Linked DNA regions of Homo sapiens. The protein of the gene in region 4 interacts with the protein of the main gene of each other region in a pairwise test. Each region holds a gene or a part of one and is shown on either strand. Other genes may lie near its edges. The genes, in order: CD33, CYB5R3, ASGR2 and UBIAD1.

Region 1 (6,930 bases), on a different chromosome or scaffold from region 4:
ACCACATTTCTTGCACAGCCTGCAGAACTGTGAGCCAAAATATATCTGTTTTCTTCATAAATTACTCAGTCTCAGATATTCCTCTATAGCAAGCCAAGAATGAACTAACACAATATTTTAAAAAGGTAGCCAAAGGTTTTATCAGCCACCTCACCAGAAAAGAAAAACAGATGGCAAACAGGCTCATGAAAACATACTAAAGATCATTTGTCCTTAGGTAATTATAAATCAGGAGAATAAGCATTCTTAGGTAGCATTACATACCTGAGAACATAACTAGAAAACAAAACAAAAATAAAAAGAAATGTTTAAATATTCTGATAATATCAAATGTTAACAAGGATGTGAAACAATCAGAATTCACACATAACTCCTGGTGGGAATACAAAATGGCACATCAACTTTGGAGAACAGTTTGACAATTTCTTATAAATTTAAACTGAACACTTACCATAGGACCAGGCACCTGACTCCTAAGTATTTACCCAAGAGCAATAAAAACTTACAGTTACACACAGAAACCTGCATGCCAATATTTATAACAACATTATTTCATAGTCACCCAAACCTGAAAACAATCTGAATGCTCCTCAAATGGTAAATGCATACAAAATGGGGGGTCCATAAAAACAGTGAGTTACGAGTCAGCAATTAAAGGGAACAAACTATAGATTCATACACTCAACCACATGATTGAACCTCAGAGGCACTGCACCAAGTAAATGAAGCCAGACTTTGGAGGCAACATTTTGTATGATTCCATTTATACGACATTCTGTGAAAAGGCAATACAGTAGGGATGGAAAACATATCAGCATTTTTTCATGGACTAAGTGTGGAGGGAGGGTTGACTACCCAGAGACAGGAGGAAGGAACGTTTGGTTAATGACACTCTTCAGTGTCTTCACAGTGGTTGTGGGTATATAATTATATACAACTCTCAAACCATATCAAAATTGCATATGATAAAGAGTTAATTCAACTGTATCTAACTTTAAATAAATTAAAAAATTTAAAACACTGGATGCCACTATGCTCTCACTAGAATTGTTCAAATATAAAGCAGGACAGTATCATACGTCGACAAGGGTGTGGAGCTACTGGAATTCTGGCACATGGCTAGGAGGAGTGGTAAAAAGTCAAAACCATTTTGGACAACAGTTTGGCAATTCCTACTAAGGTTAAACTTACAAGTAGTCATTAGTCTGACTATTTATCTTCCTGTGTATACCAATTAGTATAAAACCATGTATGTAAAAAGACTTGTACCTGAATACCTGTAGGGAGAAAACTGGAAAATCCTTGTCTATCAATAGGTGAGAAATAAAACATTATAGTATACACATAAATGGAATACTACTTAACAATATCACATTTTGAAATACAGACACAAACAACGTGGTTCAGTTTCAAAAAATATTATGCTGGGTCATAGGATACAGACACAAATTAACACATCTCTAGGAGATTTTCAAATAGACTAACTCACAATGAAAGAGGACATATCAGTGGTTGCCCAGCATAGAAGGTGGGAAGAAAAGCCCTTGGCATACTAGAAATGCTGTATATCTGCAGTGTGGTGAGTATACAGGCTGTACATACTCGTCAAATCTCATGCAAATGTGAACTTCAAGTAGGTGTGCTTTATTTCATGTAAATTATACCTAATTAAATTCATTAAAGAAACACAGTAAGACTCACATATTCATATTTGATCTTCTGGTCCATGAACATAGTATGACTTTATTGTTAAAACTAAATGTGGCTGGGCACAGTGCCTCATGCCCATAGTCAAAGCACTTTGGAGGTCGAGGTGGGAGGATTGCTTGAACCCAGGAGTTCAAGATCAGCCTGGGGGAACATAGCAAGACCCCATCTCTCCTAAACATAAAAACAAAAAGTTACTCCGGCCTGGTAGTATGAGCCTGTGATCCCAGCTACTAGAGAGGATGACGTGGGAGAGTCACTTGAGTCTGGGAGGTCAAGGCTGCAGTGAACTGTGGTCAGGCCGGTGCACTCCAGCCTGGGCAACAAAGCAAGACCCTGTCTTAAAAAAAAAAGCACTAAATGTATTGAATTTTCTATTACGTGCCACATGCTAAATATTTAAATAACTTACAACAGATATTATTTACTGGAGACTTAATTTGTTGTATATCAAATGAGGATGCAGCTACCTCTCTATTAGTAAGGATGAATGAAGAGTTATCTAGATACTATTGTGTGTAGAGATTTGACAAAGGTATGGTGGCAAGTACTAATATGTCCCAGGGATCAACGGTTTGCTGGATGCATACTACACAGAGTGATATGGAAAACCATGTAGCTGGACCTAAAGTTTAATTTTCTCTGTACACTCCACTCATGTTGTCTGGAAATATTATGTCTTTGGGCCATATTTAACTGTGAGAAGCAGATTTTTACATGAAAGAAAATGTTGATCCATATGATGAGCCTCTAAAAAAACTTGCTTCTGCCCACACTGAACCAAATGGCAGCATGAATGGAAAAGAAGTTTTTTCTGCACTGGTTCATAGAACATGTGTTCTCCCTTTTGTTTCACAGGAAGATGCTGCATGGTTCTTGTTTTGGAGATGTCATTGACACTGTGCAAATCAGTGTACTAGGTGCCAGGGGAAAATTCTATAGTCATATTTCTTTTAAAATTTCCAATATGCTACCATGATACATGGCAAATTCCCAACTTTTCACAGCTCTAAAGCCAGACAGCATGTGTGTGTGTGGTGAGGACATGAGGCTATGGATGGGGAGTATCTTAAGGGCAGGAATCAGGTCAGTGGCATCTCTTCTCAAGCCCCACCTATACACAAAGGCTCACTGTAAGAATTAAAGAAAGAGGAAAGAAACACGAATGGTGGCTCACCAGTCAAGACAGATTTTAGAGAAAACAAACCTGAGAGGAGTTTCTGGCCGAGTTAAGTCAGAGGCACACTCTCTTACAGACTAAGAGTTTTTAAGGATTTAGGGTGGGAGAGTTTATCAGAGACTTGGACTGCTTCTGAGTCTCTTTGTTGTGCTTATCTGGGAGAGAGAGGTGTGTGTCTGTACCCATACATCTTTCTGCAGCTACAGGCATACCCACTGAGTCTGCTTTTAGCTTCCCTATCTTAGTGCACCTGAAGGGAAAGGAATTTGCTTATTAAGGCCCACTGTTTTACTAGGGCCATTGTATGAGGGTGAAGTTTGGCAGTAACTCAAGAGACTCTCCCCCTACCTCCCTCTGTGCCCGAGCTGTCTTATCTGTGTTTCACTGTCTGCTCTTTCTGGTTGCTTGTAGTTAGCAGAGAAGTGATTTCCTTGAAATGCATGAGGCTAGAAAGGAAATTGGAACTTAAAGAGGCAGTGTTTCTCCGAGATGACGGTGCTCCTGCTCTGTCACTCACTATATCTTTAGTGAATGAATGAATAAATGAATGGCTGCCACCTTCACTTTACCTAGGACTCTTCTTTGTTTCTCTGCCCCAGACACTCACACGGACCCTATAGAATCCTATATCCTGCTGGACTAAACACCCCATGGATCTAGGTGAGGCTGCGACTCGGGCCAGGCCAGCAGTGATCAGCCCTGGTGTAAACAGTTGTGCACAGAAAAGCACCTCAGAGTGGAAGGACTTTAGACATGGGGTTCGCATGTCTCAGATGGCCCTGAAGGTACTGATCCAGGCTCTGGTGCTCCTGGAAGGCAAGACTCAGATTCTGCTCCATCTCCTCCCATCTCTGGGCGGGTCTCTGGCATCTCTGGCCCATGAGGGTCAATCTGTGTGGAGGGGACAAGCTCTGAGCATGTGTGGGTCTGAGGTTCCTCTTCCATGCAGGGCTGAGGTCTCCTGCTCCTCCCCAGCTTCCTGTCCGGCCCTGTAGTCCTTCCCCTCCACTCCCTTCCTCTTTTCTGCTCACACAGGAAGCCCTGGAAGCTGCTTCCTCAGACATGCCGCTGCTGCTACTGCTGCCCCTGCTGTGGGCAGGTGAGTGGCTGTGGGGAGAGGGGTTGTCGGGCTGGGCCGAGCTGACCCTCGTTTCCCCACAGGGGCCCTGGCTATGGATCCAAATTTCTGGCTGCAAGTGCAGGAGTCAGTGACGGTACAGGAGGGTTTGTGCGTCCTCGTGCCCTGCACTTTCTTCCATCCCATACCCTACTACGACAAGAACTCCCCAGTTCATGGTTACTGGTTCCGGGAAGGAGCCATTATATCCAGGGACTCTCCAGTGGCCACAAACAAGCTAGATCAAGAAGTACAGGAGGAGACTCAGGGCAGATTCCGCCTCCTTGGGGATCCCAGTAGGAACAACTGCTCCCTGAGCATCGTAGACGCCAGGAGGAGGGATAATGGTTCATACTTCTTTCGGATGGAGAGAGGAAGTACCAAATACAGTTACAAATCTCCCCAGCTCTCTGTGCATGTGACAGGTGAGGCACAGGCTTCAGAAGTGGCCGCAAGGGAAGTTCATGGGTACTGCAGGGCAGGGCTGGGATGGGACCCTGGTACTGGGAGGGGTTTAGGGGTAAAGCCTGTCGTGCTTAGCGGGGGAGCTTGACCAGAGGTTGATCTTCTCTCAGGCCCTCACCTGGACCCTCCCTCCTGATTCTGCATCCCCTCTTTCTCCTCACTAGACTTGACCCACAGGCCCAAAATCCTCATCCCTGGCACTCTAGAACCCGGCCACTCCAAAAACCTGACCTGCTCTGTGTCCTGGGCCTGTGAGCAGGGAACACCCCCGATCTTCTCCTGGTTGTCAGCTGCCCCCACCTCCCTGGGCCCCAGGACTACTCACTCCTCGGTGCTCATAATCACCCCACGGCCCCAGGACCACGGCACCAACCTGACCTGTCAGGTGAAGTTCGCTGGAGCTGGTGTGACTACGGAGAGAACCATCCAGCTCAACGTCACCTGTAAGTGCTGGGCCAGGATGCTGGGGTCCCTGAGGGTGTAGGGGAGACAGGATGGGCTGGTGCTGGGGACATTTAGTGTCCTGGAGGCCTGGCTGAGTTCGGGAGCCAGAAGGACATGAGCCCTGTCCCTTCTGCATTTCTGTGGTTTCTGGCAGGAGTAAGGGGAAATGCCTACCCTTATCTCATCTCTACCCCCAACTGAAGGAAATCCTCTCTTCCTCTCCTAGATGTTCCACAGAACCCAACAACTGGTATCTTTCCAGGAGATGGCTCAGGTAGGAAGGAGCCTCCCCGCCTGGGGCTGTTACTGACATTGAGTCTGTGTCAGGTTTGGTCAGATCTGGACTTTCAGAGTCAAATGTTCAGAGGCAAGGCCTGCAGTTAGACACGGGTAGACATCAGGCACCTTGGAAAAGGATATTTGGGGATGACTAGCAACTTCCCCCTTGCCCATCCAAATAATGCTCTTTGTCTCCCTCCTGTCTCTGAATGTCTTGGGGTATTTTATTTTTAATTGATATGTAATAATAGTACATATTTATGGATGGCATAGTGATGTTTCCATACTAATAATGTATAGTAATCAGATCAGGGTAATAGCATATCCATCATCTTGAACATTTATTATTTCATTGTTGTTGGGAACATTCAATATCCCCTTTCTAGCTATTTGAAGCTATCTATTATTGTTAAGCATAGTCATCCTACAGTGGTATAGAACACCAGAACTTATTCTTCCTTTCCAGGTGTAATCTAGTATCCTTTAACAAATCTCTCTCCTTATCATTGTTCCCCTAACCTTCCCAGCCCTTATTATTCTCTGTTCTACTTTTTACTTCTATGAAATCAACTTCTTGTAGCTTCCACTTATGAGTGAGAACATGTGGTATTCAACTTTCTGTTCCTAGCTTATTTCATTTAACATAATGTCCTCTAGTTCAATCTATGTTATAGTGAATAACAAGATTTCATTATTTTTTATGGCTGAATGATAATCCATTGTGTATATACGCCACATTTCCTTTATTTATTCATCTGTTGTTGGACACTTAGGTTTATTTCATATCTTCCTATTGTGGATAATGCTGCAATAAACATTGAGGTGCAGACGTTTCTTCAATATACTGATTTCCTTTCCTTTCTATAAATGCCCAGTAGTGGGGTTGCTGGATCATATGGTAGTTCTATTTGTAGTTTTTTGAGAAACTTCCATACTCTTCTCCATAGTGGTTATACTAGTTTACATTCTGGTCAAAAGTATATAAGAGTTCCCTCTTCTCTACATCCTCACCATCATTTGTTAATTTTCATCTTTTTTTTATCATAGTCCTCCCAACTGGGGTGATGTTACCTCATTGTGGTTTTGATTTGCATTTCCCTGGTGATTGGTGACGTTGAGCATTTTTCATATACACTTGTTGGCCATCTGTATATCTTTTCTTGAGAAATGTCTACTCAGATAATTTGCCCATTTTTAAATGAGATTGGGTTTCTTTGCCATTGAGATGTATGAGTTCCTCGTATGTTCTGGATATGAATCACTTGTCAGATGAATAGCTGACAAATATTTTCTCCTATTCTGTAGGTTGCCTTTTCACTCTGTTGGTTGTTTCCTTTCTGCATAGAAGCTTTTTAGCTTGATATCATCTCATTTATTTACTTTTGCTTTTGTTGCTTGTGCTAGTGAGGTCTTACTCATAAAATATTTTTCCAGACCAATGTCCTAAAGCATTTCCCCTATGTTTTTTTCTAGTATTTTTTAAATTTTGTGTCTTATATTCAGGTCTTTGATCCATTTTGAATTGATTTTTGTATAGGACGAGAGGTGTGAGTCTAATGTCATTCTTCTGCATATGGCACCAGTTTTCCCAGCATCATTTATTAAAGAAACTGCTCTTTCCTCAATGAGTGTTCTTCATGCATTTGTCAAAATTCAGTTGGCTGTAGATCGTGGATTAATTTCGGTGTTCTCTATTATGTATTATTGGTGTATGTATCTGCTTTTATGCCAATATCAT
Region 2 (7,022 bases), on a different chromosome or scaffold from region 4:
TGAGCTGGGGGCTCCCTGGGACTCTGGCACCCTGTGTCCCTCTTCCCCTCTGTGTTATTAGAGGCAAGGAGAGGCGGGTGATGGGTTCCCTGGTGGGGCAGAGCATGGCTTGTGGGCATTAGGTCAGGGGCTGGGAGGCAGCTGTCTCCTGGGCCCCCAGGTGGCTGGGGTGAGGTGGTCTGTGTGTGTGAGTGTGTGTGTGAGTGTGCACGCAGCACAGGTGAGGAGGCACAGGGGTGGGACCTTGGCCTCAGCCACCTGCCTTCTGTTTACTTGGCCCACTGCTGGTGAGGGTTGGGGTGGTGCTGTGGACGAGGACGGGGCAGAGCCTGTTCCAACCCGTGTGGGTAGGAAGAGAGTGCACCCCACCGTGTGAGTCTGGCAGGGCCTCTGGCTTTCTGGAGGTGAAACCTTCGCCCCTCCACTGCTCCTGGCTGTGGTGCGCCCTCTCTGCCGGTGTCTGTCTCCCCGTCTGGCTTGAACTCGGGCGGGGCCTCCTGGCCTGTGTCCCCTGCGTTGCACATGGGACCTGCCACCTCAGTGCCCACTGGGGTTTGTGGACTAAACGACTGACCGACGGTGATGGTCTGCCTGTGGCTGCCTCCCCAGATAAGAACTTTTACCTATAAAAAGCCCACCCCTTCTCTTTAGTGGCCAGAAAGTGTCCCCGGGCTCAAGTCTGTCCCCTGAGGCTTGGTTTCCTCACCTGAAGTGGGAGGAGTCATGAACAGGCTTGAGGACTGAATGAGGTGGCGTGAGCAGAGGCTGCCCGCCTGGCTCCGGGCAGCCCCTGTTGTTGGGAGCAGACACTGGAAGGAAGGTCCTTGACTCTCATCTGCTGCCCACGGCGAGCCTGGCCTTCTGAGCAGTGCTTGACTCCCAGCTCAGCCACGGGAGCTGCGTATGTCCTCTCTGAGTGTGGAACAGGCGTGGAAACAGCCTGGAGCCGGATCCTAAGCCCACCTCTGAGGCCTGTGCTCTTGGAGGACAAGCGGGCTTTTCTGACAAACAGGACAGGCTGTGCCGCGCCCTCATCCAGGAGTCTGGGCTCTTGTCCTGGTTCTGGAAACTTCTAGGCAAAATAAAAACACTGGGAGGGTGGGAGCCTGTTGTCCCTTCACTAATTCATTCCACAAATATTTGTTGAGTGCTTTCTGTGTGGAGTGTTGGGGATACAGTGGTGACGACAGACACAGATCCTGCGGTCTGCTCCAGGGCCACTTCTGGAGACTTGTGGGGAGCCGGCAGCCTGGGGTTGGAGGCCAGCATTCGGGGACTTGCCATCGGAGCCACTAATACGCGGGTGTCTTTTTCTTGGCCCAGCGCCCACCCAGGCTCACTTCCATGGGTTTAGGTTTAGGGCAAGGGAGGGAAGTGGGAAAGCAACAGAAAATCAGAAACCAGGCTCCACCCTGGGCCTCCTTGAGCTACATTTGTCCCCTCATTGTCACACGGGGAGCCTGGTTGTTCCCACCTTGCACCACTGTGGGAGGGCCGGGGAGGAAATGGGGGAAGGTGCCTCGCAGCCCGTGAAGCCAGCTGCCCGCGGAGGGGCCTTAAGCTGGGCTGTGCACTGACGCAGCTGTGCTGGAAAAACAGAACTCCAGGGAGCACCAAGCACAACCCCAGCTCCTAATGTCATTCAAGTTCATTGCCAGGGCCCCCAACAATGGTGATTTCCTGTGAATGTAACTTCGGCCAACTTTTTCCCTAGACTCTATTCCACGTGGGCGTGGTTTCTGTGACTGAGGGAGAGGTCGATAGCAGAGGAATCCTCGGAATAGTACTTGCCCCAGGGAGTTTCCAGAAGGGACCAGGGGCTGTGAAAAGTCTACCAAGGGCCTGGTTAGCTAGGGAAGGGCTCATCAGGGAAGATTTGATGTTTGAGCTAGGCTCTGAGGAATGAATAGGAGTTTGCTGGTTGGATGCATGCAGAGCAAGGACATTTGGGGCAGAGAGGAGAGCATATGCGAACGCCTGAAGCAAGATGGGCTTGATGTTGAAAGAGCAGAGAGCTGGGAGGTGAGTCCAGAGTTGGGGCCATAGAGAGGGTGCCTTCAGGTAGGCAGTGGGGAGCTATGGTGGGTATTTGAGGAGGGGTGGAGCCGCCTGTTGGTTCGGACCCCCGGGGCTGGGGGCAGGTGCTCAGGCCTCACTGTGGGAGGCAGGATGTCAGATTTGGGCTGTGAGCTCTTTGACTGGAGCAGAAAGAGTGCCCCTGTCCTGGGAGGTGGCTCAGGAAGAGCAGCACTTTGGGCTGGACATTGAGAGTCCACTCCCGGCCCACCCTGAATGGCTATATGACCTTGGCAGGTCACTTCATCTATCTGAGGGATAGATAACAGTGTCATGTGGTGAGCGATGCTTGGAGGGCTGGCTTTGGTGTACTCCGGGCAGGTCACTCCCCTTTCCTGGCCTCAGTTTCCTCACGTGCTGGGATGATCACAGTGCCCGCAGCCTAGGGTTGAGGTGGGGAGTATTCCAGGAAACCCGCGGCCCCTACTCAGAACAGTGCCAGCTCAGGGGCGCTGACCGCTGTGTGCCTCCTTCCTCCCCACCCTCCCCATCCTCCAGGTAGGGCCCGGGGAAGTGAAGCGACTCTCCTGCCATCCTTAGCTGGGACTCAAACCCTGGTCTCTCTGACCCAAGTCCACAGCTGCCAACTGGGGCCTTAAAGGAGGCCTGGGATGAGTGAAACACCTGGGCCATGCTGATTAAATGGGTGGTGGCCAGAGACCCCAGCTGGGTGGCCCTGGGCATGGGTGAGGGGTGGGCTAGGCATCCACAGCCCTTCCTTTAGACCCATGGGTCAAATACCAAGGGCCCCATGGAGCGAGGCCTCAGCTGCACCCAGCATGGAGGCCCTGCCTGGGAGAGAGGCCTTTTGTTTTAAGCCCAACAAAGGACCTGTAACTGTAGCTGGGCAGCTTGGAGCTGCTGGGCCGTTGCAGGGTGGGGGGTGGGGGGGCGGGGGCCAGGCCTGGTGTGAGGTTGTAGCACCCTGCCCTTCCTTCACTTGGCTATTCCACTCCTCTCAGTTGGTAGTGGCCCCGTGAGGGTGGCAGGAAAAGCTCCTGTGTGTGAGCCGGGACTTCCCAGGTTATAGACCCCTACGTGACCTGGGCCCCAGCTCATCTCATCTCACATCGCTTCAAGGAGATAGGCCAGGCAGTGGCCCTCGCTTTTTACAGACAGGACACGTGGCTCCACCAGAGCGTCCTCCTCAAATTGTTGGAGAGTAGGGACTCCTGGTAGTGTTTCCAGAAGGGGAGGGGCAATGGGGCTAGGCCTTGAGAGGTTAGGAGCATCTTACCTGGCTCTGAATAGAGCAGAGGCACTTGTCTGTGTTCTGCAGGATATACTACCTCAAGGGGCCCGTAGCAGGTCCCACAAAGCAAGTAGAGAGGCCTGCACGCATGCAAGGAACTTGTTTCTCAGCTTCCTGGCACTCAAAGTGAAAAGGGAACTTGTAGGGTAATGATAAGAGAACACACATGCACATTTGCTGGGAGAACTACAATCAGGGAGGTATATGGGGAGGGTGTATAAACAAGCTCTGAAACAGCTTTCTTGAGAGCCAGTGTTTTATATGAACTTTGGCTTCTCAGCCTCTCTAGTTGAACTACCAGTATGGGCTTCACACACTTTTTATTTTGAAATAATTTCAAATTACTGGCCGGGCGAGGTGGCTCACGCCTGTAATCCCAGCACTTTGGGAGGCTGAGGCGGGCGGATCACGAGGTCAGGAGATCGAGACCATCCTGGCTAACGCAGTGAAACCCCGTCTCTACTAAAAATACCAAAAATTAACTGGGCTTGGTGGCGAACGCCTGTAGTCCCAGCTACTCGGGAGGCTGAGGCAGGAGAATGGTGTGAACCCAGGAGGCAGAGCTTGCAGTGAGCTGAGATCGTGCCACTGCACTCCAGCCTGGGCAACAGAGCGAGACTCCATCTCAAAAAAAATAATAATTTCAAAGTTACTGTAAAAGAACATTTATGGGCTGGACGCAGGGGCTTATACCTGCAATCCTAGAACTTGGAAGGCTGAGGCTGGCTGTTGGCTTGAGCTCAGAAGTTTGAGATTAGCCTGGGCAACATGGTGAAACCGCATCTCTACAAAAAATACAAAAAAATTACCAAGGCCTGGTGGTACGTGCCTGTAGCCCCAGTTACTTCGGGGACTGGGCTGGGAGGATTGCTTGGGTACAAGAGGTCAAGGCTATAGTGAGCTGAGATCACGCCACTGCATTCCAGCCTGGGTGATAGAGTGAAACCCTGTCTCAAAAAAAAAAAAAGAGCTCTTATGTACTCTTCACCCAGATGTACCTAATGTTATTATTTGCTACATTTGCTTTATTTCTCTCTATACAGTATATATCTAATGTATGTTAAATATATTAGATACTACATGTGTGCATATCCATACAGTGGACCCTTGAATGGTATGGGGGTTAGGGGCTGACCTGTATAGTTGACAGTCCACGTATAGGCTGGGTGCAGTGGCTCATGCCTGTAATCCCAGTACTGTGGGAGGCTGAGGCGGGTGGATCACTTGAGGTCAGGAGTTCGATGAGACCAGCCTGGCCAATGAGAAAAAACCCCGGCTCTACTAAAAATACAAAAATTGGCCAGGCGCTGTGGCTCATGTCTGTAATCCCAGCACTTTGGGAGGCCAAGGCAGGCAGATCACCTGAGGTCAGAAGTTCGAGACCAGCCTGGCCAACATGATGAAAACTCGTCTCTACTAATGATACAAAAATTAACTGGGTGTGGTGGTGGGCGCCTGTAATCCCACCCACTTGGGATGCTGAGGCAGGAGAATCGATTGAACCCGGGAGGTGGAGGTTGCTGTGAGTTGAGATCTCACCACTGCACTCCAGCCTGGGTGACAGAGCCAGACTCCATCTCAAAAAAACAAAACAAAACAGAAAATAAAAATTAGCCAAGTGTGGTGGCGTGCGCCTGTAATCCCAGCTACTTGGGAGGTTGAGGCAGGAGAATCGCTGGAGCCCAGAAGGCGGAGGTTGGAGTGAGACAAGATCGCGCCACTGCATTCCAGCCTGGGCCAGATCTGTCTTAAATAAAAGAAAAAAAAAAGAAAATCCATGTATAACTTCTGGTTCCCCCAAAACTTTCCTACTAATATACTATTGACTAGAAGCCTTACCAATAACATATTTGTATATTGTATGTATTATATACTATATTTTTACAGTAAAGTAAGCTAGAGAAAACTGTTATTTTAAAAATCATAAGGGGCCGGGCGTGGTGGCTCACGCCTGTAACCCCAGCACTTTGGGAGGCCGAGGCAGGAGGATCACCAGGTCAGGACTTCAAGACCAGCCTGGCCAACATGGTGAAACCCTGTCTCTACTAAAAATACAAAAATGAGCCAGGAGTGGTGACGTGCGCCTGTGATCCCAGCTACTCGGGAGGCTGAGACAGAAGAATTGCTTCAACCTGGGAGTTGGAGGTTGCAGTGAGCTGAGACCGTGCCACTGCACTCCAGCCTGGGTGACAGCAAGACTCCGTCTCAAAAAATAAATAAAGAGAAAAAAAAATCATAAGGAAGAGAAAACATATTTACTATTCATTAAGAGGAAGTGGATCATCATAAAGGTCTTCATCCTTGTTCTCACGTTGAGAAGGCTGAGGAGGAGGCAGGGGGTAGTCTTGCTGTCTCGGGTGACAGAAGAGGAAGAAGATCCTTGTATAAGTGAACCACTCAGGGTCCTGGCCGGGCACAGTGGCTCACGCCTGTAATCCCAGCACTTTGGGAGGCCGAGGTGGGTGGATCATGAGGTCAGGAGTTCAAGACCAGCCTGGCCAACATGGCGAAACATTGTCTCTACTAAAAGTACAAAAATTAGCCAGACGTGGTGGTGCTCACCTGTAATCCCAGCTACTCGGGAGGCTGAGGCAGGAAAATCACTTGAACCCGGGAGGCGGAGGTCACAGTTAGCCAAGATCACACCACTGTACTCCAGCCTGGGTGATAGAGTGAGACTCCATCTCAAATAAATAAATAAATAAATAAATAAATAAATAAATAAATAAATAAGTGAACCACGCAGGGTCCTTCCGGGGGGTGACCTTCAGCTGGCCATTCGGGATGATGGACTTTCCATCCCAGAACCATGGCTCCATTTGTCCGTAACCTTGTGGAGAAGACCCCAGCACTGGTGAATGCTGCTGTGACTTACTTGAAGCCTCGATTGGCCGCATTTTGGTACTACACCACGGTTGAGCTGGTTCCTCCCACCCCTGCTGAGATCCCTAGAGCTATTCAGAGCCTGAAAAAAATAGTCAGTAGTGCTCAGACTGGTAGCTTCAAACAGCTCACAGTTAAGGAAGCTTTGCTGAACGGTTTGGTGGCCACTGAGGTGTCGACGTGGTTTTATGTCAGAGAGATCACAGGCAAGCGTGGCATCATTGGCTAGAATGTTTGAAGACCAGTCTTAACATCTGATTATATTTGATTTATTATTTGAGTGTTGTTGGACCAGGTGTGATCAGACTGCTATCTGAATAAAATAAGATTTGTCAGAAATTCCAAAAAAAAAAAAAAGTGAATCAAGCAGTTCCAACCCATGTTCAAGGGTCAACTGTGTCTATATTTTGAACCATTTAAGAGTAAGTTGCCCCTTTGCCCCTAAATATTTCAGTGTGTATCTCCTAAGAACAAGGACATTCCTTTGCGTAACCACAGAATAATTACAGGAAAGTAACATTGGTACAACACTATTATCTAATCCACAAGCCTTATTCAATTTTTTTTTTTTGAGATGGAGTCTTGGCTCTTGTCACCCAGGCTGGAGTCCAGTGGCATGATCTCGGCTCACTGCAACCTCTGCCTCCTGGGTTCAAGTGATTCTCATGCCTCAGCATCCTGAGTAGCTGGGATTGCAGACGCCCGCTACCATACCTGGCTAATTTTTGTATTTTTGGTAGAGACGCGGTTTTTCCATGTTGTCCAGGCTGGTCTCCAACTCCTGACCTCAGGTGATTCACCTGCCTCGGCC
Region 3 (7,022 bases), on a different chromosome or scaffold from region 4:
ATGCTGCCCAGACTAGTCTTGAGCTCCTGGGCTCAAGTGATTCCCCCCGTGTCGACCTCCCAAAGTGCTGGGATTACAGATGTGATCCACAGTGCCTGGCCCTAAATTTTTCTTACGCATTTCTCATCTTCCATTATTTCCATCCAGTGTGTTTTTTCTTTTCTTTCTTTTCTTTTTTTTTTTTTTGGAGGCGGAGTCTCGCTCTGTTGCCCAGGCCGGAGTGCAGTGGCGCGATCTTGGCTCACTGCAAGCTCTGCCTCCCGGGTTCATGCCATTCTCCTGCCTCAGCCTCCCGAGTAGCTGGGACTACAGGCGCCTGCCACCACGTCTGGCTAATTTTTTGTATTTTTAGTAGAGATGGGGTTTCACCATGTTAGCCAGGATGGTGTCGATCTCCTGACCTCATGATCTGCCCGCCTTGGCCTCCCACAGTGCTGGGATTCCAGGCGTGAGCCACGGCGCCTGGCCAGTGTGTTTTTTCATTTCAGACATTGTAGTTTTTATCTCTAGAAGTTCACCTGGGGACTCTTAAATATCCTCCACAATTCTACTTAATTTTTTGAACATAATGGGATATGGCTATAATATCTGTTTTACCATCCTTGCCTGCTAATTCTAGCATCCGTGTCAGTTCTGGATCTCTTTTGATATTTATGAACCTCCTCGTTATGCATTGTGTTTTCCCGTTTCATTGCATGCCTTGTAATCTTTGATTGGCTGCCAGACATTGTCAATTTCACCTTGTTGGGTGCTGGATATTTTTGTATTCCTCTAAATGTTCTTGAGCTTTGCTCCGGGATGCAGTTAAGCAACTTAGAGTCAGTTTGATCGTTTGAACTCTTAATTGTTTTGGTCTCCTCGGACTCTCAGCTCCATCTCCTCAACGTGGGGAGTCTCTTGGGCTCTGCCTGGACTTCCCTTTCCTGGCCTGTAACCTGCAGACTCTCTCCAAACAGTAAGCTGGGGTGATCGGAGGGTTCCTGTTGTTTGCTTCTTATCCCTCAGGGATCTTTACTCCTCCTTGCCTGATGTCCAGAGTCTTGAAAGCTGCCATGTTCTATAGTTGTCTGTTTTTGTTTTGATTGTTTCTGGGGAGAGAAGAACTCTTCCCATCTTGGGCAGACCCTGTCTTTTATGTTCAAACTTTTGCCTAAGAAGCACATTACATATTTTAACTCATCTAATTATCCGAGCAATCCAATCGGGTAGCTACGACTGTGATCTCCATTTTACACACGAGAAAATGGAAGCATGGAGAAATTGAATGCTGGTGCATGATCTCAGAGCTACCTGGAGGCACAGCTGGGCTACCCTGTGGGCAGTCTGGTTTCAGGGTGGATATACAGACACGTTGCTGGGCTGACCCAGCATTGGGAGTTGATAAGTCGGACTGGGAAGCAGGACAGGACCCTCTGAGTGGAGGGTGCTGAAGACAGCAGTCAGGGACTCAGCCATGGAGGGCCAGCTTGGTGGGGAACACCGTGGTCATGGAGCGCTTCTGGATGGAGAGGAATGCAAAGGCCTTGGAGGAAGGGGTGGGGGCAGTGAGAGGGAGGGTGGGGCTGTGCTCAGAGCGGGAGTGGGCAGTGGAGGTGTCAGAGGCCTCCCTGGGTCAAATGGGGTCCTGAGTGTGGCTGCAGTGGGGAAGGTGGAAGTCACTGGTGTGAAAAAGATGAAGAGTTATGGACAGTCACTTACAGGGGCAGTGTCTGACTCAGGACAGTGGCAGGAAGTGACCTGGGGAGGAAGATTCTGGGCCCCTGACTGAGCCTCCCCAGGATGTGGTCCTGCTGGGTCGGGGGGTGATAGGAATGAGAAGACAAGGAAGTCCACAGAGTCAGGGTCCAAGGCCTAGAAGGTGTTCTGTTTGCAGGTGGATGCTGCAAAGAGAGGAGCTCAGGGCTGGGACAACTGGAGCTGCTCTGGGTCTGGAGGCAGCAGAGAGGGAGCCCAGCTCTGTGTGCAGGAAGACGTGGGTGTGTGAGTGTACGTGTGTGGGTGTGTCAGGTGTGTGTGTGTGGGAGGGAGTATGAATGTGTGCATTAGCATGCATATGCACATGTGAGAGTGGGTACAGCAGAGCGTGGTCATGAGTGTGTGCAAATGTGTGTTTTTGAGTGAAGTGAGCAATGTGTGAGTGTGTGAGTGTGTGTGAGTTTGTGAGGGCATGTGAATGTGTGTGTCAGTGCTGTCAGGGTGCAGATGGATCAAGGGGCAGGAGAGGTACCTGTGAGATGACCTCGGGCTGAGGGGAGCAAATTTAGTGTGGAACGAGGTTTCTAGGGAAGCGAGGGCAAAGGGCGCTGGGGAGGAGGCCTTGCGTGGTGGGGGATGAGGACAACAGGTGGGACCTGGAGGGTTGTGCTTGGAGAGTGGGCTATGGTGGAATGACCCAGATTTAAGGATCTCAATGGAATTTTGGCAGGGGAGGGACTGTTCCAGTATGGATTTTAGGAAGAACACAGGGCCCAGCTTCTGGAGTCTCCAATCTGAGGGGACAGGAGCCTTAGAAGAGCTGAGACTAAGGCCCGAGGTGATCTGGAGGCCTCTGCCACTGGCTGGATGGGAGGAAAACCATTCACAGATCCCCCTTCTCAGGATGTGTGCCTAGGCAGGGCCGGGTCTGCCCCCCCGCCCCCTGTGCGTCTCCCAGTCCCCCAGCTCCAGGATCCGGGCTTTGCACACAGCTGATGTGAATATCCTGAGTCGTGTGCATGGGTGTGTGTGCACCAGATTAGCTGCGTGTGTATATTTATACATGGTAATATGGGTGCGAGTGTGTAAGAGTGTGTGTGTAATGCTCAAATGCTGGGGTCAAAGCCTATGATGACCCCCCCCCATGGCCCCAACCAATCCCCCCGCCCAGGTTATGCCTCCTCAGGCTTCGGTGCCCTGTCTTTACCCTCCGGCTCCCCACACCCAGGCTGCCGGCTCCTGATGCCCCTCTCCCACAGGGCCACCTCCTGCCCAGCCCCTGGCACAGCGTCTCTGCTCCATGGTCTGCTTCAGTCTGCTTGCCCTGAGCTTCAACATCCTGCTGCTGGTGGTCATCTGTGTGACTGGGTCCCAAAGTGAGGGTCACGGGGGCCAGCAGGGATGGGCAAGGGGTAGGGAAAGAGACATGGGCAGTGGCGGGCAGCGATCGGGGCGATGGGAGGGGAAGGGATGGAGGCGGGGTGGAGCACAAGCTGGGGCAAATGCGGGGACATTGAGGGGCCAGTCACATGGACAGTGATGGGGACACGGCCCCTCTGCCTCATCCTGCCCCCACTACCACCTGACAAGGTGCACAGCTGCAAGCCGAGCTGCGGAGCCTGAAGGAAGCTTTCAGCAACTTCTCCTCGAGCACCCTGACGGAGGTCCAGGCAATCAGCACCCACGGTGAGGGGCTGGACGGCTGGGTTCTCATTTATCCGCACAGGTTTGCTGGGCTCAGTGCCGAGTCTGCAACAGGGCTGTGTGGGGTGCCGTGGGGGTGCAGGCTGGGCAAGGCGTCCAGGGGCCCTGGGGGATGTATAGGAGGGAGGCAGGTGGGGACGGACGAGGTTAGTGCCAGGTGGAGAGGTTGGATCTGCGACACCCGGAGGTGAGGAAGGCACCATGTCTTGGGCCTGTGAGCAAATCGAGTGTGGCAGGCCCATCGGAGGGGCAGGCAGGTAAGGGGTGGCCAGAGAGAGGTGGGGAGGGGCCCGGCCACGCAGGTGAGCCGTGCTGACAGAGCGAGGCTTTATTTTGAGAAAATGGGGACCCATTGAAGGGACTGAAGCAGGAGAGTGGCCTGAGCCACTGTGGCAGTGCAGGGAGCCTGGGTGTGGTCCAGGAAGCCAGGAGGTGGACGCCTGCATCGCCCAGGACGAGGCGCTGGCCCCCGGTCCCCCAGCAGCATGAGGACGGAGGGAGGCTCAGCGGGGAAACAGCTGGCTTTCCGCTTCCAGGAGGCAGCGTGGGTGACAAGATCACATCCCTAGGAGCCAAGCTGGAGAAACAGCAGCAGGACCTGAAAGCAGGTCAGAGAGCCTCCGGGGTGTGTGCGCATGTGCGTGCATGTGTACGTGTGCGGTGTGTGTAGTGTGTACGTGTGCGGTGTGTGTAGTGTGCACGTGTGCGTGCGTGCGTGTGTGTGCCTGCAAGCATGTGTATCTGTGTCTCTCTCCGTATGTGTGGTGTGATATGTCATGGATCTGTGTGTGGTGTGTAGTGTGGTGTATATGTGTGTGTTGTGTGTGTATGCATGTGTGGTGGTGTGTGTGAGATGAGTCTGTGTGTGTGCGGTATGGTATATGTGTGTGTACGCATGTGATGTGTGTGGTGTGTCTCTTGGTGTGTTTGTGTGTGTGTGATGGATCTGTGTGTGGTGTGGTCTATGTGTGGTGTACATGTCTGTGGTGTGTGTGTGGTATGGTGTGTGGTGTGGTCTATGCATGGTGTACGTGTCTGTGGGTGTATATGCTTCCCCAGCCACAGGCTGGAGCCTAGCAGGTGGGGACCACACCTGCCGGCAGCACTTTCAGCCTGTCTGTCCTAGATCACGATGCCCTGCTCTTCCATCTGAAGCACTTCCCCGTGGACCTGCGCTTCGTGGCCTGCCAGATGGAGCTCCTCCACAGCAACGGTAGGGGTGGGGCCGTCTCCAGGCCCAGTGTGCCTGCCCCTCCGGCTGGATCTCATCTCCCTGCCCCCTGTCCCCTCAGGCTCCCAAAGGACCTGCTGCCCCGTCAACTGGGTGGAGCACCAAGGCAGCTGCTACTGGTTCTCTCACTCCGGGAAGGCCTGGGCTGAGGCGGAGAAGTACTGCCAGCTGGAGAACGCACACCTGGTGGTCATCAACTCCTGGGAGGAGCAGGTGAGGCCACGCTTCCCACAGGCAGGAGGAAGCCCTTGGAAGGCCTGCTCTGGGAGGCTGGATCAGGCTTATTTTATCCATTTTTTTTTTTTTTTTGAGATGGAGTCTCGCTCTGTCGCCCAAGCTGGAGTGCAGTGGCACGATCTCGGCTCACTGCAAGCTCCGCCTTCTGGGTTCACGCCATTCTCCTGCCTCGGCCTCCCAAAGTGCTGGGATTACAGGCACGTGCCACCATGCCCGGCTAATTTTTTTGTATTTTTAGTAGAGACGGGGTTTCACCGTCTTAGCCAGGCTGGTCTGGAACTCCTGACCTCATGATCCGCCCACCTCCGCCTCCCAAAGTGGTGGGATTACAGGCGTGAACCACCGCGTCTGGCTGAACTTCAAAGTATTTTAATGCCACAGTAGTTAAGCCATATGATACAGGGGCCAGAATATATGTATTGTTTGCATTACATCAGGCTCTGTTAGTACTTTACAGCATACTGTGAGTACGAACATATTTTGCTTTACTGATCAGGTTGAACTTGCCAACATTTCATCAGTTTTGACCTATAAAAATGTCAGTTTCATGCAGTTCAACCTAAGATCTCAGTGCTCTGTGATTTGGCACACAATAAGCTCATGACCACTACAACTTCGTGGTGGACGGTGCTTTCGTCACTATGAAGCCAACGTGTGTCCCAGTTAATGCTTTTTGCCTTGAATTTATCTGATATATAAATACCACGGTCCTTGATTTTTTTGTCACTTGCATTTGCTTGCTGTATCTCTGTCCATCCTTTTGTTTCTTACCTTTTTGAATCTCTGTTTTAAATTAATGATTCTCAGTCTTGACTGTACATTGCAATCTCTTCAAGAGTTAAAAAAAATATATCGACTCCTGGATCTCGCCCTTAAAAATGCTGATTTAGGCCGGGTGCAGTGGCTCACGCCTGTAATCCCAGCACTTTGGGAGGCCGAGGTGGGCGGATCATGAAGTCAGGAGTTCGAGACCAGCCTGGCCAAAATGGTGAAACCCTATCTGTACTAAACATACAAAAATTAGCCGGGCATGGTGGCGGGTGCCTGTAATCCCAGCTACTCAGGAGGCTGAGGCAGGAGAATCACTTGAACCCGGGAGGCAGAGGTTGTGGTGAGCTGAGACTGCGCCATTATACTCCAGCCCGGGTGACAGTGCGAGACTCTGACTCAAAAAAAAAAAAAAATGCTAATTTAAATTAATCTTGGCTTCATCCTGGACCATTCCCTGAGGGGCAGCACAGGGCAGCTAAGCTTAAGGTATTTCTCCTATATAGGTTTTTTGTTTTGTTTTGTTTTTGATACAAGATCTGGCTCTATCGCCCAGGTTGGAGTGCAGTGGCATGATCTCAGCTCACTGTAACCTGTGCCTCCCGGGCTCAACGGATTCTCCCACCTCAGCCTCCCAAGTAGCTGGGACTACAGGTGCACACCACCATACCTGGGTAGTTTTTTGCATTTTTAGTAGAAATGGTGTTGTGCCATGTTGCCCAGGCTGGTCTTGAACCCCTGGCCTCAAGCGATTCGCCCGCCTGGGCCTCCCAAAATATTGGGATTACAGGTGTCTGAGCCACTGTAATCCAAAAACTGCACCTGGCAGGTTTTGTTTTTGATGTTTAAAAATCTAATAAGTACCTTTTCTTTTAATAGGTGAGTGTCTCATTTACATTCTAATAGATATGTTTAACCCTAGTCCTTTCTTTTTTCTGCTTTACATGCTTCTTAATTTTCTTACAATTGCTATGTGAGAGGTGTTCTTTTTGTTTTCTTCTTTATGGTATTTTGGAAACTATGTAGTTTATTTAGAGTTATTCCAGTGATTACTTGTATAACTTTAAATAATAGGCTGAAAATTATTGGCTTTGAAAACTAAAAGTTTGTATAACTTCCATAGGAAAGGTGAGGAGACCAGGATACCTCTTATTCCCATGTGTCTGAGTCTTTCCTTTCCTAGGTTCCTTAAGTGTTGTATCTGAAAAAAAAAAAAAATTTTTTTTTTTTTTGAGATGGAGTCTTGCTCTGTCGCCCAGGCTGGAGTGCAATGGCGCGATCTTGGCTCACTGCAACCTCTGCCTCCCAGGTTCAAGCAATTCTCCTGTCTTAGTATCCCGAGTAGCTGAGATTACAGGCACCCGCCATCGTGCCTGGCTAACTTTTA
Region 4 (7,995 bases):
GCCTCCCAGGTTCAAGCAATTCTCCTGCCTCAGCCTCCAGAGTAGCTGGGATTACAGGTGTGCACCTCGGCAGAGTAGCTGGGATTATAGGCGCACCCCACTGTACCCGGCTAATTTTTTGTATTTTTAGTAAAGACAAAGTTTCACCATGTTGGCCAGGCTGGTCTTGAACTCCTGACCTCAGGTAATCTGCCTGCCTCAGCCTCGCAAAGTGCTAGGATTACAGGTGTGAGCCACTGTGTCCAGCCTAATTTTTGTATTTTTAGTAGAGACGGGGTTTCACAATGTTGGCCAGGCTGGTCTCGAACTCCTGACCTCAAGTGATCAGCCTGCCTTGGCCTCCCAAAGTGCTGGGATTACAGGTGTGAGCCACCGCACCTGGCCCCTGATTAATTTTATAAAGTTTGTTGGGACGGTTTCATTTCCATCTTGGTACACACAGAGTTTCTTGTCCTTTTGTTGTTGCTACAGCTGCATAGTGTTCTATCACATGGCTGTGCCATAGTTCATTTTCCAGTCCTCTGTGAATGGACATTTGTGTTATGTCCAAATTTGTGCTATTACAAATGCTGCAGTGAATGCCTTTGTACGTATATCATTTTCTTCCCTGACAGCTATATCAAGATAAATTCCCAGAAATGGGATTACAGGGTTAGACAGTTTTGTTGAATCTTGTCAAGTTGATCTCTATAAGGGAGGTACCAATTTTTATTCCCATCAGCCATATAGGAGATTTTTGCCACCCTGAGATATGATACAGCCCTGTTTTCTAATTAATAATCAAAGATGATTTTATAGCAACAGTAATAAGTGCGTTTGTCGGTTTCTTTTCTGTTTACAAAGAACTTTCTTTTTTATTGTATTTTTGCAAGTCTTTTTATTTTATTATTATACTTCAAGTTCTAGGGTACATGTGCACAACGTGCAGATTTGTTACATAGGTATACATGTGCCGTGTTGGTTTGCTGCACCCATCAACTTGTCATTTACATTAGGTATTTCTCCTAACGCTATCCCTCCCCCAGCCCCCCAACCCCCAACAGGCCCCGGTGTGTGATGTTCCCCTCCCCGTGTCCATGTGTTCTCATTGTTCAACTCCCACTACAAAGAACTTTCTTATGCATTACACTAAAATAATAGCTAATATTTATTGAGCACTTACAGTGTATCAGGGATTTTGGTGGACATTATAGAGTACTTGTTAAAAGCAGCTTGGAGTCAAGTCAAACTAACTGAATCTGAAATTTGGCTGCAACACTTTGTACCTATTTCCTTATGTGTAAAACTGGAAGGATTATAGTCTCTTCGTTGGTAGGCAGTATTGTGGGGGTTAAACGCTAATACCACACGTAAAGTACCTAAAAGAGGTACTTGGCCCAGCATGGTGGCTCACACCTGTAATCCCAGCACTTTGGGAGGCCAAGGCAGGTGGATCACCTGAGGTCAGGAGTTCGAGATCAGCTTGGTAAAACCCTATCTCTACTAAAAATATAAAAATTAGCTGAGCATGGTGGCAGACGCCTGTAATCCCAGTTACTCAGGAGGCTGAGGAGGAGAATCACTTGAACCTGGGAGGTGGAGGTTACAGTGAGCCGAGATCGCACCACTGCACTCCAGCCTGGGCGACAGAGCAAGACTCCGTCTCAAAAGCAAACAAAGTATATGGCTCATGTGAAAAGTCAATAAATGCTGTTTACTATTATTCCTGAGCATTTCTATGAGGCAGGTTGTATTGTTCCCACCTTATATATAAGTAAGCCAAAGAACAGAGATATTGGGACATGGAATTGGTAAGTGATAGAGCCAGGATTTTAATCTATCTGCTGATATATTGTCTGATTTGACATTGTATGACTCATGGGTTTGGCCAGCATAGAAAGCTCTGTGTTGAGTGGTGAAGTTGTAATGTTCAACAACCAGATTGGGGGTAAGTGGAAGCAGACATGTACAGAGCTAGCTTCACAGCTGTGTCATGCTCTGTTTTGCAATTGTTAATGATTTTGAACAAGAGGCCCCACTTATTTTTTTTATTTTTTAAATTAATTAATTATTTTTTTTGAGATGGAGTTTTGCTCTTATTGTCCAGGCTGGAGTGCAATGGCACGATCTCGGCTCACCGCAACCTCCACCTCCCGGGTTCAAGTGATTCTCCTGCCTCAGCCTCCTGAGTAGCTGGGATTACAGGCATGCGCCACCACTCCCGGATGATTTTGTATTTTTAGTAGAGACGGGGTTTCTCCATGTTGGTCAGGCTGGTCTTGAACTCCCAACCTCAGGTCATCTGACCACCTTGGCCTCCCAAAGTGCTGGAATTACAGGCGTGAGCCACCGTGCCTGGCCTGGCCCCACTTATTTATTGATTTTATTTTATTTTTTTGAGATAGGATCTCACTCTATTACCCAGGCTGGAGTGCAGGGGCACAATCATGACTCACTGCAGCCTCAACTTCCCAGGCTCAGGTGATTCTTCCGCCTCAGCCTCCCAAGTAGCTGGGACCACGGGTGCACACTGCCACGCCTGGCTAATTCTTTTACTTTTTCTTTTTCTTTTTTTTTTTTTTTGAGATGGAGTCTTGCTCTGTCGCCCAGGCTGGAGTGCAGTGGCACGATCTCGGCTCACTGCAAGCTCCGCCTCCGGGGTTCATGCCATTCTCTTGCCTCAGCCTCCCAAGTAGCTGGGACTACAGGTGCCTGCCACCACGCCTGGCTAATTTTTTTGTATTTTTAGTAGACATGGTGTTTCACCATGTTAGCCAGAATGGTCTTATCTCCTGACCCCATGATCTGCCCGCCTCGGCCTTCCAAAGTGCTGGGATTACAGGCGTGGGCCACTGCACCTGGCCCACACCTGGCTAATTCTTCGATTTTTACCGTGTGGTCCAGGCTGGTCTTCTCCTGGGCTCAAGCGATCCACCTGCCTTGTCCTCCCAAAGTGTTGGGATTACAGGTGTGAGCCACCACATCTGGTCTTTTTAATTTTTTAGAGCGGAGATCTCACTTTGTTGCCCAGGCTGGTCTCTAACCTGAGCTCAAGAGATCCTCCCGCCGGGTGCGGTGGCTCACACCTGTAATCCCAGTACTTTGGGAGGCTGAGGCAGGCGGATCACGAGGTCAGGAGATAGAGACCATCCTGGCTGACACGGTAAAACCTTGTCTCTACTAAAAATACAAAATAATTAGCCGGGCGTGGTGGCGGGCGCCTGTAGTCACAGCTACTCGGGAGGCTGAGGCAGGAGAATGGTGTGAACCCTGGAGGCGGAGCTTGCAGTGAGCCGAGATTGTGTCACTGCACCCCAGCCTGGGCAACAGAGCAAGACTCCGTCTCAAAAAAACCTCCTGAGTAGCTGGGACTACAGGCACACATTATCACCCCCAGCTCCACCTCTTTAGTTTGCACTGGGTACCACAAATTATGTAGTCAGTCCTGTGTGCATCTATGTTGCATGTGTATTATAATTTCACTGATGTAAATGATGTGTAGCATACAGTTTACAAATACTAAAATATACAGTACAGGACTCTATTGTAAACTCCATATAGCCAGTTCTCACAGTATGCTTTCTTTGATGTTGTGTAGCTTCCCTATGGTCCCAATTGATCAATGAGCATAGTTCAGACATGAATGTTGGTTGATATTTTATGTTAGGAGTAAGAGGAAAGTGAAACAATCAAAAGAGATATGTCAGAACTTCACTAGTTTGTCAAGGCTACAAGCGACTTATTTGTTCAACTGGATAATAATTTGCCAATGCTGAACGAATATTTCCTCAAAGTTTTGGTGCATTCACTTACACACTTTTTTTCTCTCTTTTTTTTCTTTTTTGAGACGGAGTCTCGCTCTACTGCCCAGGCTGGAGTGCAGTGGCGTGATCTTGGCTCACTGCAGCCTCTGCCTCCAGGGTTCAAGCAATTCTCCTGCCTCAGCCTCCCGAGTAGCTGTGATTACAGGAATGCACCACCACCCCCGGCTAATTTTTTTTTTTTTTTTGAGATGGAGTCTCACTCTGTTGCCCAGGCTGGAGCCCATTGGCATGATCTTGGCTCACTGCAACCTCCATCTCCCGGGTTCAAGCAATTCTCCTGCCCCAGCCTCCCGAGTAGCTGGGATTACAGGTGCCTGCCACCACGCACGGCTAATTTTTGTATTTTTAGTAGAGACAGGGTTTCGCTATGTTGGCCAGGCTGATGTCGAACTCCTGACATCAAGTGATCCGCCTGCCTCGGCCTTCCAAAGTGCTGGGATTACAGGCGTGAGCCACCGCACCCTCCAACACTTTTAAGTTTAACCAGTAATATGAACATTTTCTCCGCCACTTTCTTAAGTCTAGACGACTTAGCAGTTATTAAGCATTTGCTGATTTGCGTGGTGTAAATTCTCCCACCATGGGCAGATTTCAAGCTGCTGAAGGATGTCACTGAATGAAAAGCTGATAAGAGGTGAGCAGTAGCACATCATAGAGTATTTCCACGGTGCAGATATGATAGACGTCAGAATGTATGCACACAGCAGGCGCTCAATAAATGCTTGTAGCATGAATAAATTAATGAATCCTACTTCGTGAATGAAAGTGCGCCCGGTAAGTCCTAAAGCAACACGCCTTCGAGTTCTTATGATGCTAAGAGAGGCTGATTGCAGTTAGTCTGGAAGTAGCTGCGGGGCGCAGTGCAGGCAGGAAAAGGGCTGGATGCCGGGTCACCGCCCGGCCCCAGCTCCTGGCCCGTCCCCGCTCCCGGTCCATTCCCGCCCCGGCCCCGCCCCCTCCCGCCCCACCACCGGTCTGGCCCCGCCCCTCAGCCCCGCCCCACCCCTCACCGCCCTTCTCCCCGCCTCTGACCCCGCCCCTCCTCTGACTCGGCCCTGCCCGCCCCGCCTCTGACCAGGCCCCCGCCCCCCACCCCTCACCGCCCTTCTCCCCGCCTCTGGCTCGGCCCCGCCCCCTCCCGCCCTCCAGCCCACCCTCCGGTCCAGCCCGCGCCGCCGGCACCTGTTTCCGGGCGGGCCTCCAGAGGCCGGCGCACAAGATGGCGGCTCTGGCGGCCTAAAGAAGGCGGCCGCGGCTCAGCCGTGGGCTCTAACGCGGGGCTGGGGGCCGGAGACAGACTTCGCCCAGGTGACGGGTAGTAGGGGCGGCGCCGCTTGGCCTCGTGGGGTGTAAGACCCACTTGCTGTTGCCCCCGGACCTTGCCGCCACACCAGCCCTGTCCTGGGGCGGAACCGAAGGAAGGTCGGGCCCTGCTGCCCCGCCCCGTCCTTCCTCCTTCCCGGGCGGTCACTGTGCGTGGCTCACTTTTAGAGTTTACTTCAACCACGTGGAGCTTCCATGGCGGCCTCTCAGGTCCTGGGGGAGAAGATTAACATCCTGTCGGGAGAGACTGTCAAAGCTGGGGACAGGGACCCGCTGGGGAACGACTGTCCCGAGCAAGATAGGCTCCCCCAGCGCTCCTGGAGGCAGAAGTGTGCCTCCTACGTGTTGGCCCTGAGGCCCTGGAGCTTCAGTGCCTCACTCACACCGGTGGCCCTGGGCAGTGCCCTTGCCTACAGATCCCACGGTGTCCTGGATCCCAGGCTCTTGGTGGGTTGTGCCGTGGCTGTCCTGGCTGTGCACGGGGCCGGTAATTTGGTCAACACTTACTATGACTTTTCCAAGGGCATTGACCACAAAAAGAGTGATGACAGGACACTTGTGGACCGAATCTTGGAGCCGCAGGATGTCGTCCGGTTCGGAGTCTTCCTCTACACGTTGGGCTGCGTCTGTGCCGCTTGCCTCTACTACCTGTCCCCTCTGAAACTGGAGCACTTGGCTCTTATCTACTTTGGAGGCCTGTCTGGCTCCTTTCTCTACACAGGAGGTAAGATTTGGCCTGTCCTGTGTGCTGCAGGTCTTAGTCGCGTCCACTGGAAACCGCTGCTTTGTAAAGGAGTTATAGGGATGTCAAAGGTGGCTTTCTAATTTAAGCCGCTTTAATTGAAGTCTATAATTGTGGGTGATGTGAATTTTTTGAAACAGTGATTTGAGAAGATCCTGGTTTGACTTACGGACGTAGGGCATGACTGAAAATTTTATATGGACATTTATTTTTATTTATTTTTTATGTATTCATTTTTGAGACGGAGTCTCGCTCTGTCGCCCAGGCTGGAGTGCAGTGGTGCGATCTCGGCCCACTGCAGCCTCTGCCTCCCGTGTTCAAGCGATTCTCCTGCCTCAGCCTCCCGAGTAGCTGGGACTACAGGTGCACGCCACCACGCCTGGCTGATTTTTGTATTTTTATTAGAGACGGGGTGTCACCATGTTGGCCAGGATGGTCTCGATTTCCTGACCTCGTGATCCACCCGCCTCAGCCTCCCAAAGTTCTAAGATTACAGGCGTGAGCCACCGCGCCCTGTCAGGACATTTTTTAATTTTTTTTATTTTTTTTGAGACAGAGTCTCGCTCTGTTGCCCAGGCAAGGGTGCAGTGGCACCATCTCGGCTTACTGCAACCTCTGTCTCCCGGCTTCAAGCGATTCTTCTGCCTCAGCTCCCCGAGTAGCTGGGACTACAGGCATGTGCCACCACGCCTGGCTAATTTTTGTATTTTTAGTAGAGACAAGGTTTCACCATGTTGGCCAGGCTGGTCTTGAACTCCTGACCTCATGACCTGCCTGTCTTGCCCTCCCAAAGTGCTGGGATTACAGGCGTGAGCCACCATGCCCGGCCTATATGGACATTTTTTCTGTCTCATTTTTTTTTTTAATCACTCATACTTTATAATGCCACAGTTTCAAATATTAGAATTAAATCTGAAGAGTTCAAAATGATATAGATAATTACTTCTAGCTAGTTTGCTAGGTGACTTCTTGCAAGAGGCTGATTAAGGTAGTGATGGGCAGGTGGGTAAGCCCTATTTATTGAGCACCTATTATGTGCCAGGCACTGTTCTGTGTGAACACAGCAGTCACAGATCCCTGCCCTTGTGAAACTTACGTATTATCATGAAAAGAGACAGAAAGTAAAAATAGAAAATTATAGTTAGGGTGACCAATATCCTGGTTTGCTCAGGACTAAGGTGACAGGACTAAGTCGGATGTGCGACTTCTGGAGCTAAAACCAGAAAAGTTCCTGGTAAGTCAGGTTGAATTGATCACCCTGATTATAGTATATGAAAGATGATAAGTGCTATGGGAAAAAAAAGTAGAGCAAAGAATGGGACACAGATTACTATTTTAAGTAGTTTGATCAGGGTAGGCTTCATCAAAAAGGTAACATTTGGCTGAGTGCAGTGGCTCATGTCTGTAATCCCAGCCCTTTGGGAGGCTGAAGCGAGAGGATCGCTTGAGGCCAGGAGTTAAACACCAGCCTGGGCAACATAGACCCCTGTCTGTATAAAATATAAAATAAAAAATATTAGCTGGGCATGGTGGTGCTTGCCTGTGGTCCCAGCTACTTTGGAGGCTGAGGCGGGAGAATTGCTTGAGCCCAGGGGTCAAGGCTGCAGTGAGTCCTGATCACACCACTGCACTCCAGCCTGGGCGACAGAGTGAGACCATGCCTCAGAAAGGTAGTATTTGAGTTGAGTTACATTGAAGGAGGTAAGAGGTGAGGGAGTTGGCCAAGCAGATATCTGAGAGAGGAGCATTTCAGGAAAAGCAACAGCAAGTGCCATAGGCCTTCAGGCAGGAATGTGTCCAAAGAGCTTACAGAGCAGCAAGAAGTCCAGTGTGTGAATGAAGGAGAGAGTAAAGAGAGGTAAAGTAAGAGAAGTACGTTTGGGGAGGGTAAGGAGGCACACACACGGATTATATAGACCTTGTAGGCCACTGGTCTTGGCTCTGGAATGGAGGAGCCACTGCAGGACTTTGAGCAAGGGAGTGATGTAATATAATGTTTTAAAAGAATTGCTCTGGGTAAGGTATTGAGAATGGATCAAGGGGAGTGGGGCAAGGGTAGAGGCAGGAAGACCAAGTAGGAAGCTCTTGAATAATCCAGGCAAGCGATGTTTGGTGGCTTGTATCTAG

The links.
Region 1: the proteins of UBIAD1 (region 4) and CD33 interact in binary tests that used the Homo sapiens proteins (3 or more experiments, as listed by UniProt).
Region 2: the proteins of UBIAD1 (region 4) and CYB5R3 interact in binary tests that used the Homo sapiens proteins (3 or more experiments, as listed by UniProt).
Region 3: the proteins of UBIAD1 (region 4) and ASGR2 interact in binary tests that used the Homo sapiens proteins (3 or more experiments, as listed by UniProt).

Annotation. Positions count from the first base shown.
Region 1 is NC_000019.10:51,221,170-51,228,099, forward strand, and holds the start of CD33 (myeloid cell surface antigen CD33 isoform 1 precursor), read left to right. Parts: upstream 1-3,910; 5' UTR 3,911-3,922; coding exon of another isoform or gene 3,923-3,949; coding exon 3,950-3,986; intron 3,987-4,048; coding exon 4,049-4,429; intron 4,430-4,633; coding exon 4,634-4,912; intron 4,913-5,139; coding exon 5,140-5,187; intron 5,188-6,930. UniProt on the Homo sapiens protein: Sialic-acid-binding immunoglobulin-like lectin (Siglec) that plays a role in mediating cell-cell interactions and in maintaining immune cells in a resting state.
Region 2 is NC_000022.11:42,639,390-42,646,411, reverse strand, and holds part of CYB5R3 (NADH-cytochrome b5 reductase 3), read left to right. Parts: intron 1-1,785; exon of another isoform or gene 1,786-1,902; coding exon of another isoform or gene 1,903-2,022; intron 2,023-5,810; exon of another isoform or gene 5,811-6,137; coding exon of another isoform or gene 6,138-6,440; exon of another isoform or gene 6,441-6,609; intron 6,610-7,022. Other genes in the region: ATP5MGL (ATP synthase subunit g 2, mitochondrial), read left to right, coding at 6,138-6,440. UniProt on the Homo sapiens protein: Catalyzes the reduction of two molecules of cytochrome b5 using NADH as the electron donor.
Region 3 is NC_000017.11:7,104,821-7,111,842, reverse strand, and holds part of ASGR2 (asialoglycoprotein receptor 2), read left to right. Parts: intron 1-2,954; coding exon 2,955-3,071; coding exon of another isoform or gene 3,072-3,107; intron 3,108-3,285; coding exon 3,286-3,381; intron 3,382-3,935; coding exon 3,936-4,007; intron 4,008-4,525; coding exon 4,526-4,612; intron 4,613-4,691; coding exon 4,692-4,843; intron 4,844-7,022. UniProt on the Homo sapiens protein: Mediates the endocytosis of plasma glycoproteins to which the terminal sialic acid residue on their complex carbohydrate moieties has been removed. The receptor recognizes terminal galactose and N-acetylgalactosamine units.
Region 4 is NC_000001.11:11,268,211-11,276,205, forward strand, and holds the start of UBIAD1 (ubiA prenyltransferase domain-containing protein 1), read left to right. Parts: upstream 1-4,987; 5' UTR 4,988-5,321; coding exon 5,322-5,850; intron 5,851-7,995. UniProt on the Homo sapiens protein: Prenyltransferase that mediates the formation of menaquinone-4 (MK-4) and coenzyme Q10. MK-4 is a vitamin K2 isoform present at high concentrations in the brain, kidney and pancreas, and is required for endothelial cell development.